Linked DNA regions of Homo sapiens. The protein of the gene in region 1 purifies or fractionates together with the protein of each later gene. This does not show direct contact. Each region holds a gene or a part of one and is shown on either strand. Other genes may lie near its edges.

Evidence for each region.
Region 2: the proteins of FLG2 (region 1) and DSG1 purify together in Homo sapiens (affinity purification with mass spectrometry, with the first as the bait; one large-scale study listed by BioGRID). This does not show direct contact.
Region 3: the proteins of FLG2 (region 1) and ARMC9 purify together in Homo sapiens (co-immunoprecipitation; one large-scale study listed by IntAct). This does not show direct contact.
Region 4: the proteins of FLG2 (region 1) and KPLCE purify together in Homo sapiens (affinity purification with mass spectrometry, with the first as the bait; one large-scale study listed by BioGRID). This does not show direct contact.

What each region holds. Positions count from the first base shown.
Region 1 is NC_000001.11:152,356,477-152,361,912, forward strand, and holds the start of FLG2 (filaggrin-2), read right to left. Parts: upstream 3,531-5,436; 5' UTR 3,480-3,530; intron 2,431-3,479; 5' UTR 2,409-2,430; coding exon 2,271-2,408; intron 1,172-2,270; coding exon 1-1,171. UniProt on the Homo sapiens protein: Essential for normal cell-cell adhesion in the cornified cell layers. Important for proper integrity and mechanical strength of the stratum corneum of the epidermis.
Region 2 is NC_000018.10:31,315,952-31,321,377, reverse strand, and holds the start of DSG1 (desmoglein-1 preproprotein), read right to left. Parts: upstream 3,219-5,426; 5' UTR 3,078-3,218; coding exon 3,030-3,077; intron 1-3,029. UniProt on the Homo sapiens protein: Component of intercellular desmosome junctions. Involved in the interaction of plaque proteins and intermediate filaments mediating cell-cell adhesion.
Region 3 is NC_000002.12:231,358,394-231,363,048, reverse strand, and holds part of ARMC9 (lisH domain-containing protein ARMC9), read right to left. Parts: intron 2,296-4,655; coding exon 2,166-2,295; intron 342-2,165; exon of another isoform or gene 256-341; intron 1-255. UniProt on the Homo sapiens protein: Involved in ciliogenesis. It is required for appropriate acetylation and polyglutamylation of ciliary microtubules, and regulation of cilium length. Acts as a positive regulator of hedgehog (Hh)signaling.
Region 4 is NC_000001.11:152,717,453-152,721,388, reverse strand, and holds KPLCE (protein KPLCE), read right to left. Parts: upstream 1,868-3,936; coding exon 1,115-1,867; 3' UTR 919-1,114; downstream 1-918.

The sequences.
Region 1 (5,436 bases):
TCAAGCCTGTTCCATGTTGTTCAAAGCTAGTAGACTGACTTGAACCAGACCCATATTGATCACATTTGGAAAATTCATTTGAACTAGAAGAGTTTGAAAAGCGGCCACAGGAACCATATTCATGTTGACCATTACTACAAGACTGGCTACCTCCAGACCCATATTGTCCACAGCAAGAGGACTGACTTGAGCCTGTTCTCCATTGTCCTCCACAGTTCTGTGGTTGACCATTTTCTCTAGCTCCATATCCTCTCTGACTATAGGACTGACTACAGGGGTTAGACTCAGGTTGACCACATCCAGAGGGCTGACCTCCTGAGACACAGCCATGGCCTTGTCCTCCCTTAATTCCTGACTGACAGCCTGACTGAATATAGCTAAATTGATTTCCTTGCCCTCCAAATCTATGTGACTGACAAGAACTTGAAGCATTTTGTGGCCTTCCACACCCACTTGAATTGCTATAACCACATGCATGACTTCGCCTCCCACTGTCTCCTGAACCTGAACAGCTAGACCCAAGCTTTTGTTCTCTAATTCTTGACTGAGTAGAGTTTGATTCATGCCCACTAGTCTCCAATCCACATGACAGACCACCATGACCTTTCCTTTCCCAACTGTTTGATCCAGATCCAGATTCATACTCCTCCCCAGATTCCCTAGAAGGGCTAATGTGTGACTTGTTTATTCTTTCTCTCAGTTCTACAGAGCTGGAACCATGTCTGTCTTTGCCACCACTCCATGAATGACCACAGCTGGACCTGTGGTATCTTTTCTGAGATCCCTCTTGGTTCCCAGAGCTGGATAAATTACCTTGTCTTCCTAGCCTCCTGGAGTTGGACCCATGTCTACATTTCACAGTTCCCCTTGAGTGCCCAGAACTATATCCATGCTCCTCTCCCTCACTCCAACTTGAATGTCTGTAACCTGATTTATGTCCTGGTGTATCCTCTTCATCCTCTTCTGTTTCACTTTCTTCTTCTTGGTGTCGGTGACCACGCCTATGCTTCTTTGACCCTGAAGCTTTGCAGTATTCTTTGCTGAGGACCTTGTTGCAGGCCATAGTCAGCTTGAATATCATCAAAAGAAACTCAGTAAAGTCCAATCTTCTGTCATGATCTCGATCCAGCATATGCATGATGACATCCACTGTGTCTGGATCATCTGGGTTCTGTATATGAGTGACACACCAAGGGAGACCTGGTCAGCCTAACCTGCATACTCAACTAACACATTTAAATAGCGCTGTGAAATTATGGATGTTTGACATGATGTAGTTTTAGTCCAATAAAGGATTACTTTAGGTTAATAGAACCCAGTAAATGTTAAGGGTTAATAGAAAATAAAGACTACTGGGATCCTCAGAAGAAGACATTTCAAGGATTTAGGCTAAAGGATTAAGTGCTTAGGTAAGGCCTACAGGAAGGAGTGGAATAAACTAAGTTCAGTAACTGGTATTTCTAAGTTTTACATAAATTGTAACTATTACATGTTAATATCTTCCATGTTGGAATTTATCATCTATTATTTTGAAGTTAATAACTGAGTCTTTTTTTTTTTTTTGAGATGGAGTCTTGCTCTGTAGCCCAGGCTGGAGTGCAGTGGTGCGATCTCTGCTCACTGCAAGCTCTGCCTCCCAGGTTCACGCCATTCTCCTGCCTCAGCCTCCCGAGTAGCTGGGACTACAGGGGCATGCAACCACGCCCGGCTAATTTTTTGTATTTTTAGTAGAGATGGGGTTTCACCGTATTAGCCAGGATGGTCTTGATCTCCTTACCTTGTGATTCACCCACTTCGGCCTCCCAAAGTGCTGGGATTACAGGCATGAGCCACCGCGCCTAGCTGAGTCCTTTTTAAGTAGATGGAATAAAATGCTGGCATTTTATTTTTGATTCTTAATCATGGCTATTTTGTCAACTCCCTATGTAGATGATTTCCCTTTCTATACTTTTTTTTCCATTTGATAGGATAATTTATTAATTCGTGTCCTAGTATAATTTTATTTTCTGCTTTTTCTAAGGAAAAGCCTGGGTGTATGAGAAAGTCTGAGAGTCTATGAGGTAGGAGTGCATAGGTGGAAAAGTGAGGACGAAACATTCACTTTCTTTAAAATATCTGCTGCTTTAACAGACTTTCTGGCATCCCCAAAATACCACTCATAGAGTTTGCTTAGAGTTCACTGGGGCTGTGCACTTTTTAGCTGATCTGGGTCATACAACAGAGCTTGTACAGGACTCCAGCAGCCTTCAGTTCTGGCACATGGCTCTCACCTTCAGAACTGGATGAAGCTCTTTCTCCAGAAGTTCCTTTAGTTCACCCTTGCTCAGTGTGCCACACTCCCCATCTTGCTTGGTGTATTTGTAGAAAACATCAATTACGGTGACAACACTTCTCAAGAGGTCGGTCATCTTTTTGCAAGTTTAAGTGAACCTGGACACAGAAAAACAAAGAACCCTATTATTCATATTCTCTCCTTTTATCAGCAATTTTCATTTTAATAATAACCAGCATGATTTTTTTAACCTCTTGTTTTTTAAATCTCAAAACGTAAGAATGGGCCAGGGATGATACAACCCCGTTTAACACAATGAAAATTAACTTTGTTAACTTTGAGTTACTTTTCTGTGATCAAGTCTTGGCATGTTACTGGTTCAACTGAGAATAGACCTCAAGTCTCTATATTTCCTGTCATGGGTAAGTATAGTCTCTACATAGTATCTCTACACTTTGAGTGTGTTGGCATTCTGGGTGTTGTTCTAAGGCTTCCAAAATTTCCAGAACCAGCCAGACACCATTGCCTCAATCTCTCTTTCTAGTTTCACTGCTTTTCTTGAGTCAAAAGTGACAGACCTTCCACCATGCACATCTGTTTATCCTCTGGGCACCAGAAGCTAAACTGGACCCTTAAGGCCTTCAGCAAATTAAAAATGGGCAAAGGGGCTCAAAATAGCTTGGTGTTTCATAGGCATGAGACAGTAGAACTCAGTAGAGCTTAGGAACTCTCTTAATGTCAAGCACTTGACCAAACACTGTTTTCTTTAATTAATCAAGAAGAAGAGCTCAGCAATGCAGGCAGCAGTTTAACTAGTGGATAATTAGATCTTGGAGCTCTGGGAACCAACACTGAATAAGGAAGGGACTCTGCAACAGACCCAGCTGCCTCCCAGTTTGAGCTGGACAGCCCAGAAAAGAGGGCATGGAAAAAGACTCGGAACAGACTGTGGAATGGCCTAGAGGAAGGTGAACTTTTACTTGCATTATTCTTCTCCATAAAAATGAACTTAACTACAAAAAGGCCCCAGAATAAACTAAACTAACCAAACAAATAAGCAAACAAAAAGAAAAGAAAATGAAAGAAAGAAACAAAAAAGAAAAGAAAGGCAAAATATACATGAACTCTGCCTTAGCTTATATCCCTAGACTTCTACTATGGACAACACCAAATATTCATAAATGTAGCTGGATGAATTTTCTCTCACCTGGTTCACCAAAGGAACAAGTAGGATAAAGCCTGATGCAGCTTGCAGGGTGACGATGGATTGGGATAATGACCCTTATATAGCTTATAGTGATTATAGTGAATGAGGTGATTCATTTTCCATCAAACCTAACTCCACCTCTACATATTTACCTTCCTCCTTCACATTGTTATCTACAGATGATTGCAGAAAGGCTAGTACCAGCCCCACCTTCCAGTACGAGGACATGGTTGCAAGATACCTTTTTTTTCAGGGTCATATACATGTGAAAAGCACAGACTTTGTTTTAGAGGACTCATGTTATACATTTCTTTTAACTAGTACCCACAGAAAGTAGCAGAGTGTAAGATACTTGGAAGGTGCACAATAAATGCTTATTTAATTGAAAATGAACCTGAGCCACTAGGTTCATCTAATTCATGTCTTTTTTGTAATAATAAAAAGTGACATTTATTGAGAATTTACTATGTGCTAAATACTTTAAACAAACCATCTCAATCTTTAAAAAATCTGCACTTTTAGTTATGGGTACATAGTTGTATATAATTGTTGGGTACATGTGATGTTTTGATATGGGCATACCATGTGTAATGATCAAATTACAGTAATTGGGGTATCCAGCACCTCAAGCATTTCTTTGTAGTAGGAACATTCTAATTCTACTATTTTAGTTATTTAAAAATATACAATAAATAGTTAACTATAGTTACCATATTATGTTACCAAATACTAGATCTTATCACCTCATTTAATCTTCACAACCTTCATACGAGATATGTATTTATTATCCCATTTTATAGAGACAGGTTCTGGAAGCATAAGGATCTTCTCCAAGGTCATAGCTAGTAGGCAGAGAAACCAGAAGTTGAACCTGTATCTACCTTATTGCAATTGCTGTTTACCATTATACTAACTTACCTCTGTGTATTTATCATATATAACTATCATGCAAAAATTATGCACCATTTTAGGAGTGTAAGGCCCACTCAAACGCAAATAATATAAAAAAGTAACATACAGAGTGCTGTTAGGAAGAGAGGAAACATTCTCTGACCTTGTGAAGGCTCATTTCTAGGCTAGAAAAGTGTAATTGGCTATATATAAAAATAATGTTTTCAGATATGTTCAGGGTGAATTTAGAGTGAGCTTTCTTCCAGCACTCTGCGATCCACTGGTAGTCTGGCATGTTTAGGGCCTGGACCCTTGGGAAAATGTTCACTTATGTACAGAAAGTATATCAAATACACTTGAGGGTAACAAAAATAATCAGAGAGCTGTAAGTCTTAAGCATGGAGAGCCAATTCTGCTGTACTTTGCTACCAGGTGATAATGATGATGATGAGGAGGATAGCAGCTACCATTAAGTGCTAAGTGCTTACTATCTTCTATACATGGTAGGTTTACATGCTTATCTATTTATTCCTCAAAATAACCCCATTTTATAGATAAGGTAATAAAAGCATAGAGCAATGTAAACATTTGTTACAAATCGCAGCTAGTTAGTAGCAGCACTAGAACAGATACACATGCTAGCCGATGCTAAAGCCTAGCACTTAACCATATATATTCTACATATATGGAGTCAATAAACTCCTATCTGGGCATTGCTTTGGGCCAGTCATCATATCTTATTCATTCCACCATCTAGGCAGCACCTAGAGCTTGGTAAACACTAAGAATGAGTGTCTGTTCATAAAATGTTAATGAATAGGCCCTTGAAATATGTCAATTGCTCACATAGCCAAGGAATCCTAGACCAAAACAACCACACAGAAAGTTATGGTTGCTGTTGGATACTATGGTCATTTTCAATCATATGCATCTTTTGGAAGTGCATTTTTGTTAAGATGGCTGCTGTGTCAGAAAGACTTTCAGGCCCCAGACTCCACACTGAGACAGAATTTTAAAGCATTTTTGCACTGTCACTCCAGCATTATAGTTGAGAACTCTGAAACTC
Region 2 (5,426 bases), on another chromosome or scaffold:
AGCTCTCTCTTTTGCTTGTCTTCTGTTTGGTCTGTACTAATTTGTTAGTTCTTCTCTTGCTTTAGGCATCTGTGAACACAATTTTGGGGACTTAAGATGTCTTCAAGTAAGTTTAGGAACTATGTAATGAAATGTGTATTATTTTCTGTGTATTTTAGCCTGAGTGATGAAAGTACTCTTAAAAACTCCTGCTCATATTTTACAGAATTTCAGTTCGGTTCAAACTGTGGAGTTAGTTTATCAGGTGTCAGAGGGTTGGGTTTTTTTTTGTTTGTTTGTTTCGAAATGAAATATTAACCCATAGAAAGAGGGGGAAAATGGTTACTATAATGAACCAAAATAATCAGATCATTCATGGTCATAGATAAAAGTCATTTTCTCTGTTCTTTGAGCTTGAGCTGCAGAAATTTACCTTTTTAGAAAAAGACATCTTCAGATTTGTATTGACTTAAATGGACTAATTGGACCTGGCAAAGTTGCAAGTAATTTTCAGAAATCATTAAAACCATAGAGATCCCTCTGGCTCTGTTTTGCTTTCCCACAGTGACCATGCTGTACTTTTTACCATTGTCATATACATGCACATAGATTTCTTTTATTTGGTGCATAAGAAGCATTGTTCTCAGGCCTAGAGAAAATACATTCTAACTCCTTTCTCTACTCCATACACTGATTACATGGAAACAAAAAGAAGAATGAAAAATAGATGCAGAATTAACAAAATGTGTTTGACTTGCAGTGTTATAGCAGGTGTAATCTCTTGCCTGTCCAGGAGACTTGTCAGAACAATGGAATAGCCATAGAGCGATCTTGATTGCTGTAAGAGCAGCTCCTCCAGCTTTGTTCTCCCTGATTCAACCCACTCATTTGAACAAGGTTCACAACCTTCAGATGCATTGAGATGAATACACAGTATGCTTGCAAACAAATAGTTACCCAGTTCTCAGGTAGATTTGCTTAAAAGACACTACCAATTTAAATATCTTAAAGGCCTTAACAATTGTACAAATACGCTTCCTAATGCAGGTTCCCGCTTATTGACTTTGAGTAGAGACGAATATAAAGACTTTACATAAATTTTTTTTCATTTTTTGGTAAAAGCATGCATTTATAATGAGACTAGGAGAAAGATAACTGAAAGAATTTGCTATAGTGGTGGTTGTTTTATGAAGAAAAAAAGTATTTTAAAGAAAAATACAGATTAGGAAACTCCAAAGCACAATTACCAAAATTATCCCATGTGGTAAAATCTGTACTTAAAATAAATTTTGATCTTCCAAACCTTAGAAAGTGAAATGTTTTCCAAAAAAACCTATGATGTCAACGTGAAAATGAAACATTGTAATTCATGATAGTGTAAGTTCTTTGAGAAAAAATTTTCATAAGGCATGTGGGAGACTTGTGATTAATTTCAATATAAAATAAGGTAACCTCCTCTTCCCCCATTCCCAAAAAAACCCCCATAAGCCAACAAAAAAAAATCTAGGCACAGCTAGAGAAAGTTCAATAAAGATATATGATTTTGATGATGATACATTTTATTGAAGAATGACTAAATAGGAAGTGGCTGTTTAAAGAAATTTGATATGCTATAATTAATTTGAAATAAATAAATCAACAAATAAGGCACATCTTAGAGATTCTATGAAAGTTAGTGTACACCTATCTGAACAAGCTGATCAACTAAAACTATAATAGCTCTTAATGGATCAAATTTATTTGAAATTTTAAGTAAAAGTGCTTGATTACTGACAATATGAAACTCTCATATTTCAAATGACATACTGTATAATGATCAGTGATCCCTACCAAATCCTAAGTAATGAAATCAACTGATCCTAAATATCCACTGAAAAGAGCATGGGATAGGACTAATGTTTGAAGGAAAGCTTGGAACCAAAGCCACCAGCTTACTGATGCTCATTTATAACTAAATCCACTGATTATGTCCCGCCTTAGTTAATAAAACTGAATTCAAACTAACCAGCATACTTTGAATCAAAGATCTAACTTATTATACCAACCAACCCAACATTCCAGTTCAAAAATTAAGCAAGTAGAAACAAATGTGAACCACAGCACTATACATCCTGCCAAGCTGGAGGGCAATTTACTTGGCACCTGCCTTTTTGAATTACATTAACCTTACTATGAGAGAGATTACAATTTTCAAATTTTCACTGAAAGTGAAATTGACATAATACATTAGTGGTGCACTTAGTATTATCTCTACAGCAAGAAAACTAATTACATGTAAGGGGGCAATGATAAAGTATTTCATTACATTCGTCAGACGATCAAGTGCACAACTTTTATATCGCAGTCATCACTGACATTCCAGTAGTAAGATCGAGTGTAATAATAATTATACTTACTCTTTAATTATAGCCACTTCTTCACTTAATATGTCATTTATAAACCTCCTGTACTGCCGTTTTTTGAAATTAAAAATGTTTTAAATAAAATCATAGTTAAATAGTGCGGGGCTTTTTATAGTAGTGATACAGATTCTAACCAAATATGCAACTGATGACTTTATTTGGATAGCGAGACCAGCCACAAACTGCTACGATTTTAAATTATGTGGTGCTATTTTTATGTTTTAAAAATTAGAGTAATTCCACCACCAAACACACAAAAAAAATAAAAAAAAAAACAGGTTAAAAATCCAGACACACTTGTGATATTTAGTTTAAAAGCCCTCTTGCAGAAGAGATTTTGAACGACAAAGTGCTACTAACTAGCGATAGGAATTTCCTAAATTCAGTCTTTTCCCAGCATGACTTAGCAATGACTTCAGTGTCAGAGATGTAATACAATGAGTTGACACTGAGGCATTAACATGATCTTGAGTCTTCAATTAAAGAGAGAAATGCTATTGAAAAATCTAGTTCATAAAATCATCTTGTCATTAATATACATTTTCAATGGGTTTAGGTTAGAAATAATGCCCACTAACATTTTCTAAAAAGTTTTCACTTGTTTACAATGGGCACGATTATGAAGGACTTTTACCAGAATCCACTCACCAGAAAAATGAACAGCATTGCAACTACTCTGAAGAAACTCCAGTCCATCTCTGCTGGATTCTCTTACATCCAAGACCAAGGGAGTTTTGTTTGTTCTTCTCTGTTCTTTTTCTTTCTCCCACTCAGCTGGTGTCTGATTAAAATAATTTCTCAGTAGATGTTCTTACATGCAGGCTTTGAGGTGTTTCTGCCTTCCTCTGGGAGAAGGACTGAAGGTACGTATAACCAGTCTGGATCCCCACCCTAAAAACTTGGGCTGGTCTCACTGAAATGCTTGACAAGATCATCATTGCTCCCAGGTAAAAACTTGGGGACACACCCTTCCTCCAGCTGAAAAGCGACTCTTGATGGGGCAAGGAAGATTCACTCCTTTACTGAATGTTTTCAGTGGCAGGCTCTTAAAGTGAACAGAAATACCGAGGGTTATACAGGTGATGGGGGCTTCTCACCCCATGCTTTCTTTACAGGTGGTTTAGTTTCTCCCCATATTAAACAGGCAGGTATAACTTGAATGCTCATCTTATTCATTCCATTATCTGTTTGTAGCCAAACCCTCAGGTCATAGTAGAAAATGACAAACTTTCCATTTTAGTAGATGTTGGGAAAGTTTCAGTTATTTTCGGTTGTTAAGAGACAGAAAATATGCTAATGCAAGACTGAGATTTTTTAAAGTTATTAATTCAAACAAGTAAAACCATGATACTTACAATTATTAGATCCTCTGCATAAGTCACAATTCCCATTAACTGACCAGCCTTCAGTCTAAGGAATCCTCCATTTTCCCTCTAAAGAAATTATTTTCTCTCCCTAATTATTTTTCTTTCTTTATGATTCTTTTATTAAATGCAACAAAATAAAAATTTAAATATTACTAAACTTAAGGGTGAATAGTGAGAACCACCAATTAAAATCCTGATAATAACTTTAAAAATGAGATTCGGTGCCTGAAATACTAATGAAAACACAGAAAGCTGCTCAGCAGGTGAGGTGGGTTAAAAGTCAATGACAATTCCTAAGCACAGAGCCAAGAATCTGTACAGCGAGCCAATTAGAACATAGGGAATACACTGAAGAAATGGCTGCCTACACAGGTAGACGGGAAACTGAATGCAGCCCTGAGGTTTGTGAAAATAAATAGCAACCTTCACAGGGCAGCATTTGGACATATTTTTGGACTCTCTTCTCTTCCCCTGGCAACGTCTAGTATAAATATTGTGAGTGGCAGGAAGCTCATAGACACTGGACACCCTCAGAGTTTGAAACGGCTACTTAGAACAAGAGACCTACCTGATAAGATGTTGATTATGGTCAAAAAGATACTCAAAATGTCTCCAAAAGGAAGAAAATCTCTGAGGGTCAGAGGGTCTATAGAAGGCTGTCATTTCACTACAGATTTGTGGCAAAGAAGATGTGTGGTTTGAATTTCCATATTATCCATCATACAGTGTGGAGGGGAGGAGATAGGCTGCCCATGTTTATTTGCAGTGAATAAGAATGTTTATGATTGTAAATAGCAGATGTAAATAAATAAAATTTAGAAAGATGAGCTGGCCGATTTTCTCTAATGAGAAATGTCAAATAAAATAGACTGTATTAACCTATGACTTAGTCTGAGCAATATATTAGTATCATGTTGTCTGACCATGAATAGCAGAAGACTCACTGGGCACCAGAGACAACTGCACCTACTCTTGCAGCTTTCCAGTGGCGAGTCAATGTTTTATGCATCTCGGATTCTGGGCATGATGCTAGGGCATGCATGGGGGCCTCCTTCATCCATTAAATTACCTTTCCTTAAACCTAACCCTGGCTCCACCCCTAACTCAATGCCTTGCTCCAACAATCCTATATGACTAGGGGATTCATAAGGCAGCAATCTCTCAAACATCTTTCTGGAGAGGAGGTGTGATAGAACTCCAATACTGCAGAGCAGCGTCTGTCTTGGCAGTTACATGAGAGCCAATACGATGTTAAACACAGCGGGAGAGGGAATTTGTTAATCACTTTCTCTCCCTTGCCTCCTTCCCTGCCTTTTTCTCTTTCTTACTCATTTTAACGTCCTCAGAACAGTGCTATCCAGTAGAACTTTCTGCAATACGAACATATTCTCTATCTATGCTGTCAGATATGGTAGCCATTTATAATATGTGACTATTGAGGATTTAAAATATGGTTATTATGACTAAGGAAGAGAATATTTAACTTTGCTTAATTTAAATTTAAATAACCACATGTGGCTAGTGGCTACCATATTGGACAGTGCAGACATCATTGCTTTTGTTGTCTATCTTCTCTCTTACTCCAAACCTTAACTTCCGGTTTTTACAAACTCACCTCTCTCAATCTACCCTATGCCTTTTCTTAATTGAGAACCCCACCATTGTTCCAGCTTTCAAT
Region 3 (4,655 bases), on another chromosome or scaffold:
AGCCCTGCATTCCCCGTATACCCAGCAGGCCCTGCACGCTCTCTGTGCCCTGCACACTGCGCTTGTCTCTGAGGCAGTGAGAGGCAGCCACATGACAACACAGTGGGGTCTCCGCCCCGTGGAGGGACTGTGGCTTCTGTGAGCCTGGCAGAAGGGCGTGACCCGCACTTTGGGGTCAGGCAGGAGGAAGGGATGCTTCAGTGAGACCTGAATTGGGGCTGAAGTCAGCCTGACAAGAGATGGCCACTTGTGATTTAGAATATTACAGCATTCTAGATGAGGTATACCATATACATATGAGGTATATATATATCTCTCATCTAGAATGCCGAAATATTCTAGATGACGTTGCCAGTGAGGGAGGAAGAGGAAGATGGAACAACTTGTACTTCTCCCTCCTTCCATCCTCTTCTTCCTCACACTGAACTCCCAGGCTTAAAATAAGAGCTGGCTTCAGTGACTGACACCAAGGGGAGGGCACCTCTGGGTTGGACCCTGAGGGGTCTTTGTGCTCAGTAGAATCTTGGGGGGCCAGCTAGGCAACGCTGCTTGATGTAATGAGGTCCCTCAGGGTCGGCTGCCTACCTACTGTGAAAACAGTTATTTCTGGGGAGAGAGGGCTGTCCCCAGTGGAGAGCCTCAGAAATGAACTCAGCATTTGCAGGAAGTAAAAAGAAGTGGCCTATACCGGAAGCGTAGGTTTGGCCTGGCTGAACCGCAGGGGAGGATCCAGTCTGGACTGGGGGCATGAGATAGCTCTAGCCCACTCCTCAGAGGTCTCTCATTTTGAGTCCCCATTTCAGGGGGATGCTGAGAGCCTGAGAACCCCTGGTCTAGCTGACAAGCTCCTCTTCAGCCACAGAAAGAGGGGAGGAGGCCCAGGTAGGGGAGGTAGGTCCCTGGGTCCCCAGGCAGGTTGGCAGTGGAACTGGAGGAGTCCAGAGGCTTGGCCCCTCCCCCAGTAATGCAGCCACCTTTGACCCCGTGCTTCTTAAAGATAGCTGGGACTGCCCCCACCCTTCCCTAGCCCAGGTCTTGAAGTCCTTCCCATCCTTCCCACAGTTCCGATTTCGGCTTCTAGCCCATCCCACCCAAGGAAGCTCAGCACACTTGTCTGCGCCCCCTTTCTCTTACATCCTCCTCCTGTCTGCCACTCCCCATTGATTTCTCTTCCTGCCTCTTTCTCTCTCCGATTTTCTCCACCAGTGGGTGCAGGTTCTGCTCAGTCTTCCTGCCTGTCCTCTCCGGGGGCCCCCAGAACTAAGCTGAGCCTGCTCCAGCCCCATATTTTACCGCAGGAGGTTGGCTTCCTTCATGGCCAGGAGGAAGTGGTGAGGGGCAGCTGGCATGCCTGGTGGTCAGGGACAGGCAGGGTCTGAGACCCAGGCCAGGCCCCTCTCCCTGAGCAGGTTTCTCCAGATCCAAAAGAAAGAGCTGGCGAGATTGGAAAGGTCCTTTCTAGACCCTAAAGAACCCCTAATAACCCACAGGGCCAGTCTGTGCTCACGTGGCACAGTGGAAGAGAGGACACTATTTTTTTTTTTCTTCTGCTCGGGGGTCCAGTTTTTTCTTTTCTTTTTTTTTTTTTAGTTTTTTGATTTTTTTTTTTTTTTTGAGACAGGGTCTCACTATGTTGCCCAGGCTAGTTTCAAACTCCTGGGCTCAAGCAATCCTCCTGCCTCAGCCTCCCAAAGTGTTGGGATTACAGGCGTGCGCCACCACGCCCCAGCCTGGAGGCCCAGTTTCTGTTTCAGGAAGTGACCTCTGAGCCAAACCATTTACTCACCTCCTTCTCCATCTTTCTGCCCTACAGCCCACTTCCTCCAAATGCAAAAAGCTGACAGGACACTGTCCCTAAGTCACCCCATCACCCAGCCCTGGACAAGTCCGCCTGGCAGTTTTGAAAACTAGTCCCATGGGCATGCTTCTGAGTGCTGTGTCCTTCCCGTCTGACTGATGGCTCTCAGGCAGCACAGCCCTCCGAGGTGGTCAGGAGTGGCGGCTGCACTCCGCTGGGAATCTTGACACTGCTCCTTAGCCTCCCCTGTCAGAGGCTGGGCCTCAGAGGAGCCTTCCAGGTCTCCTGGGTGCTCTGCATCCGGCGTGGGGCGCCCACTCCCAGAGCTCCGAGAGTCAGGTTCGAGGCCTTGTGATATCCCCCTTACCTGGTGGTCACTCCATTGCCTGGGTCCTGGGGCGCCTCCCTTGGCTGGCGGGGGGTCCCCGTGGGGGCTGGGCGAGGCTCTTCCTGGCGTCCTCTTGGGAGCCACTCTCCTGGCTTGGCGATGATGGCTGCTGGGGAGGAGGAGAGAAAGTTCAGTCCACATCTGCTCTGGAGCCCCTCTAAGGATGCCCTCTCGTGGGCTGGGTTGGAAAGCCAAGAAAAGCACGCACCCCAGGCCAGGCCCTGCGGGCTCCCTGGCGCCTGTGGCTTGGGATACTTGTTTACTCGTGCAGCCCGGGAACTTGCCAGGTAGCGGGGGATGGCAGGCACACTGCTGGTGGTGACAGGCACAGCCCAGGGAGGTTCAGATCACCCTGGCCGCTCAGCCTTCCTGGCACCCCTCAGCCTCTGGAAAGCCCTCAGAACAACAAATTGTCTCCCTGGGCCATGGCTAGGCGCCCCCAGACAGAATGTGGAGGCCCATTTGCTTATCTGAAACTCAAATGTAACTGGGTGGTGTGTAGTTTTATTTGCTAAAACCAACAACCTGAGAGGTAGGGTGCTCCTCACCGAGCAGCCCAAGGCTCCTTAATGCTGAACCACTCGGTACACCCAGGGTGGCCAGGAAGTGCCCTAACTCCCAGTGACTTGTGCTGTAGCTGATGCCCACCCAGAACCAGGCCACCCGGGACACGCAGGAGCCCTTCACGGGGAAGCAGACGGAGAATCCCAGATAGCATCATAGCATACGGAGGGCTCCCCAAGGGCCTGGGAACAGATGTTCCTGCATCTCAGATGCCACGCACCCCTTCCCCCACCCCGCCTCTCCTCTTCTCCTACAGCTGAAGGGGTCCATGTCACTGCTGCAGCGACACTGTGACAGAGGCTGCATCCGTGACTCCCTTAGGCCAAGCTCCTCTCAGCTCTTTCATTTTAGCAGCTCCTCTGTGGCTTTGCAATGTGATCTGTTTAATCTTAAATATAAAGGGATCTTCCCTGCAGGTTTCCCTGTAGCAAGGGGCTTTGACTTCCAGATAATTCTCTTTTGACCCAAACGAGAATCTATTTCTGATACCAGAACCCAGCGGGTGGCACTGGGCGGTCTCCACCTGGATCTGGGTCTAGAAATAGAGCTTCAGGACAGGAGGCACATGCTCAGTGTGCTTAGAATAAGGCCAGGAGAAAAAGCGTAGGTGTACAAGAGAATACTTGAGTGAAGTCACACCGAATTGCTGGGCTACACGCAGGGGAACCCCATTACAACGTGTGGAGTCACAAAGCTGTGCCCACGCCAGGCAAGTCCTCTAGGACCAGGACCAGGAGCTTCCCAGGGGGTGTGAGCGTAGGGGACGGGGTGGTCATAAAAAAGGAGGAACTGAGCTGGAGTGTCCCAAGACCATGAGGTGGTCTTGGTTCAACTGTCCCCTTCTCCTCTCCTACTTCCTCCAGCACAGGCCACACTGAAGACTTTCAGAGGTCCCACCAAGAACAAGAGACCAGCTGAGCACGGTGGCTCACGCCTGTAATCCCACCACTTTGGGAGGCTGGGGCAGGCAGATCACTTGAGGCCAGGAGTTTGAGACCAGCCTGGCCAACATGGTAAAACCCTGTCTCTACTAAAAATACAAAAATTAGCCGGGTATGGTAACACATGCCTGTAATCCCAGCTACTCAGGAGGCTGAGGCAGGGGAATCACTTGAACCCCGGGAGGCGGAGTTTGCAGTGAGCCAAGATCGCACCACTGCACTCCAGCCTGGGTGAGAGAGCGAGACTCCATCTCAAAAAAAAAAAAAAAAAAAAACAGGAGACCCCCCTAACTAAGACAGCCAGGAGCTAGGAGATGGGGCAGCCATGGGTGTGCACCGGGGTCTTCCTGGGACAGTAGTATCTCTTGCCTGCTGGTCCATTTCAGACAGGGCTGGGCATTTTAACTCCCAGGGCTATGAAGTCCCAAGGCATGTGATTTTGATATTGAAGATAGTCCTGGTTGGTGGGGAAATGAGAATAGCTTTCCTTAGGCCAACGTTCTGCAAAATGCTAAGCCATATTATTGGCCTTTTCCCTTGGGAACTATTTCCTGTTGGCATTTGGGGCTGTCTTTTGCCTAGAATGTACTTTCTGGGCCTGCACTCAACCGATCAAGCAGTTTGAGGGTCCAACAGGTTCCTCCTCATGAGTTTTCCCTGCGGTGCTGACTGAACGCAAAGCGCAAAGGCTCTTCCTCAAGAAACTCAGCGTGAAGGTGGGGGTTTCCACGGGGTCTCTGGGTGGGGCGTTAGTTCCCAGCACAGGCCAGACTCAGCAGCGAGCTGTGTGCAAGGAGACCTGTGGGGAGCGCTGCCTGGGGCCAGGATGGGCCTGGGGCAAGGTGAGTGAGAGAAGGGAAGTGGAGGGGGCCCCATGCCTGTAATCCCAGCACTTTGGGAGGCCGAGGCGGGAGGATCGCTTGAGCCCAAGGGTTCAAGACCAGCCTGGGCAGCACAGAGAGAC
Region 4 (3,936 bases), 360 kb from region 1:
TGTGCTGTTTGTGGAGATACAGGTGTTTAGACATTCAAAGGCAGCAGAGTAGTCAAGATGATCTTCTGCTAGTGTCCAGGGTTAGAAACAAACACATGATTCCCTTTTTCATTCATTCCTTTATGCGTTCATTTATACATCACCAAACATTGTCTCCTATGCACCAGACCTTGTGGGATTGTTTTGAACACTTGTTACTCCTCTATTTTTTTAATGTGTGTATTTGGAATCTTTAGTTACAAAAGTCCACCCCAAATTCTCTAGAGCTAGCTAAGCAATGGAGAAGAAAAAGCTAACTAGGGTGAGGGGCCCAGAAGGGGGCCCAGAAGCCCCTCGCACAAGATTCACCTTCCTTTGGAGATGGCTCACTTACTACCAGGACTGACCTGGTGAATACCTACCCACTTCAGGGGGCTCCTAGCCTTTTCCCTCAGGCCTTCAACCTATAGTTTCAACAGGGCAAGCCTGTCAGATGAGAAAATGTAATTCATAAAGTCCTGCATGGGTTCAAGCCCTCTGCACAGTGGTGGAGACATGGTCCAGTGATACTGACCATGACCAGTGATACTGGTCCATGAGCAGATACAATTTCACAATCTCTCCAACACCCAGGAAGATGAGGGTCTCATCATGGTCAACCCTGCTCTGAGGCTCATCAAAGGGCAGCACAGAAACAGCCCCAACCCTCAAATCTCCATTTTCAGATGCTTCTAACTTGCGTGGGAAAGTTTATTCACAGCATTCTAGAAGGCATGGGGCTCCCAGGCTGGGATTTCACCAGCTCAGTCTGCTTGTTCATGTTCGTGCAGATCTTTCCTCTAGCTGAGAAACAAGAGTAAGAAGAGAGGGATGCAGAAGAGTGCCTGATAGAAAAGCATAAATATGGACCAAACAAACAGACAGAAATTACCACGAAATGCATTCAGAGCTTTATTCATGCCAAAGTTTGGGGACTGTACTAACTCTGGCAGGCTGCCTTGGTAGAGAAGCAAAGCACAGAGGCAAAGTGATGAGGTTCTACATCACTGGCACTAACAGAGAGGGGGCCAGAAGCTGGTGCATGTTCCAGAAGGGGTAGCGGGGCAGTGCATTCTGGAGTTGAGCTGTCGTATGTTTAGCAGCAGCAGTCATCCTCATGGTCACAGCATGCAGGACCTCGGGACCTCATGGGGATAATTCCCAAACAGCAGCACCCAGAGCTGCCACATCCACAGCTGCAGCCACAGCCCCCAGAACCACAGCATCCAGAGCTTCCCGAATTCTCACAGCAGCCAGATGATCCTGTGTTGCAGTTCTGGGGCCGCTGAATCCAGCGTCTCAGGGGACTCACCCCGAAGGTCCGGGGAGCCAGACAGCAGTAGCTGGTGGAACAGGGAGCAGAGCATGGGTCAGTGACACAGTACTGGGAGGTTGAGCCACTTGCAGGAGCTTGAACATAATAGCTCTGGCAAGGAGAAGCACCCTGGACATAGCACGTCTGGGTCTGGCAGGGAGCTGGACTTTTGATGTAGGTCATCTGGCAGGGAGCTGGGCACTTCACGTAGGTTTGGCAGGGAGTTGGGCATTTTACATAGGTTGTCTGGCAGGGAGCTGGGCACTTCACATAGGTTTGGCAGGGTGTTGGGTATTTCACATAGGTCCTCTGGCAGGGAGCTGGGCACTTCACGTAGGTTTGAGTCTGGCATGGAACTTGGTACTTCACATAAGTTTGAGTAGGGCATGGAGCAGGGCCTGTCACACAGACAGTTTGGGTCTGGCATGGAACTGGGCATTTCACAGAGGCACCATTGCTACCCTGCCCAGCCCCTAGTCCCGAACCTTTCACACAAGATGGAGGGAACTGTGGCTGCTTCTGCTGGTCACACATTGTTCTGTGGCTTTGCAAAATCTGAAAAGAAAGGTTTCATTAGAACTGTAAAACCAGGAAGGTTTCTAGGGGAAACCTTCAACATCCCCTTTGAATACAGTGATTTGCAAGCAAGGCTTTCTTGAGAAGGTTGCAGACATCCAGAGGCTGTATACTTGGCAGGAGGTGGATTCAGAGCCAGGGACTCTCAGCTCAGCTTCTGTGCCTGTACCTGGCTATGTGGCTTGGTACAAGTCATCGCTTACCTCTGGGCCTCAGTCTCTATATTGGGAAATGGAGGCTTGAAATGGTGCTGCCTGTGTTTCTACCCAACTCTCCAAGCCTCCTCTCCTCTTTCTTCAGTGTCTGCATTGTGAATTACCCTTTGGAAATTGCTGCTCCCAGATGATTGACCCCTGCCACCAGTTCTCTCCAGGGTGACTTCCCTTCTTCCTTCTGCCCAGACAAGGAATACCCAGCAAAGACAAATTTATGTCCATGGACCCTGAGCCAACATGAGCCTCAAGCTGTGCCCGGTACTGAGCAAAGAACAAGGCTAAATTTGAGCAGGTTTCTACCAGGTGCTCCTTGAACCAGCTGGACTAATCAGTTGGCCTCATTAGCACATAGACCCAAGAGAGGACTGCACAATTGCATTCAGATAAGGGGATGGGGAGCCAGTTCTCTAAAGTCCCTTCTTAAACAGGAATGCCAGCTCATCGTGTCCCCCTCCCTCTCCTCTCATGCCCCAGGCTCCAAGTTTCCCACCAGCATTGCTTTCAGCCTCCTTCAGCAGATTTCCTAAGCATCTAGTCCTCGCTCACCCTTCATCCCACAGCTCTCATCCCACCCCAGCTTCCCCAAAGCTCTGTTTCTCACCATGTCCTTATCCCGTATAGAGACTTACCCTCTTTGCTGATAGGAGCAAGACTGGAAGAAGTCAGTGATCTGAAAAACTAGCAGGTGGGGAGACCTTTTATAGGGCAGCAATGAGGCAATTTAATGGCATCTAAATGAAGCACCAGAGATCACAAGGAGAAGGGATGGTGTTGCATTGGCAAGATTCCTCCCCAGTATGCCTGGCTCCTCAGTCAGAGGCAGGGCATGTCTGTGCTTGACATTGGGTTTTCCCAAACACTAGATAAATGATTCCTGTTCCCTTCCTCAGGAAACAAGTCAGTCTCCTTTTCCTATAAGTTATGAGTGATGCCTATGTGATCTGTCTCTAATGAAGCTGTTTCCAGGTCACTTGAGTCTTCAGGACTTATCCAAGTTATAGTTAGATTCTCAATTTTTCATACACTGTGCCAAAAGCTAAGTGTAGCTCAGAGAATCAAACTAAAATTGAGAATCTAATCTAAAGCTAAGTGTAGCTTTTGGCACAGTGTATGAAAAATTGAGAATTTAACTATAGATTCACCTCACTTCACTCAGCCTAAATGAGTGTTCTGTGGGCTTCCAAGGTAACTTCTGCTGGTCTAGGTTGCTGAGCACAGTTTGGCCCAGTGGTCTCTGGCCCAATATGACACAAGACCTCCAAAAAATGGTTTGTTTCATGGAACATCAGGTTATTCTAGGTTCATTTGGAAACTGGGTGGGTGCTTAATGATCCTAGGCCCCAGGCTGGAGTCTAGACTGCCTCCCCTCAGCCTTCTCATGCCCCTTAGGCTCCCCCATTCTTACCTTTCAGGACCTCACTACCAGGCTTCAATTCCAAAGAACGCTGAGCAGGGAAAATTCCAGCCAGATGAGCACTGTGTGATAACAACAACAACAATAATAATAGAATCTAAAGTTTATTTGAATACTTTATATATAACAATTCATGAGGCAGTACATTTACAAATGGACACAACTGAGGCCCTGAAAGTTTAAGGGAGTTACCCTCATCACAAAGCAGGTAAGTAAGGAAGCTAGGCCTCAGATGCAGGAGTCTGCTTTCATAGATCATGATCTTTATTACTACAATATGTTGCCTTTTATTTCTGAACATGGCATTGTCCTTGAATCCCTGCCTGTTTTCTTTTCCACAATGCAGAAGATGTAGAAAGAGAGGTGGGAATATTATCTACTGAGCACTTACTATGTGG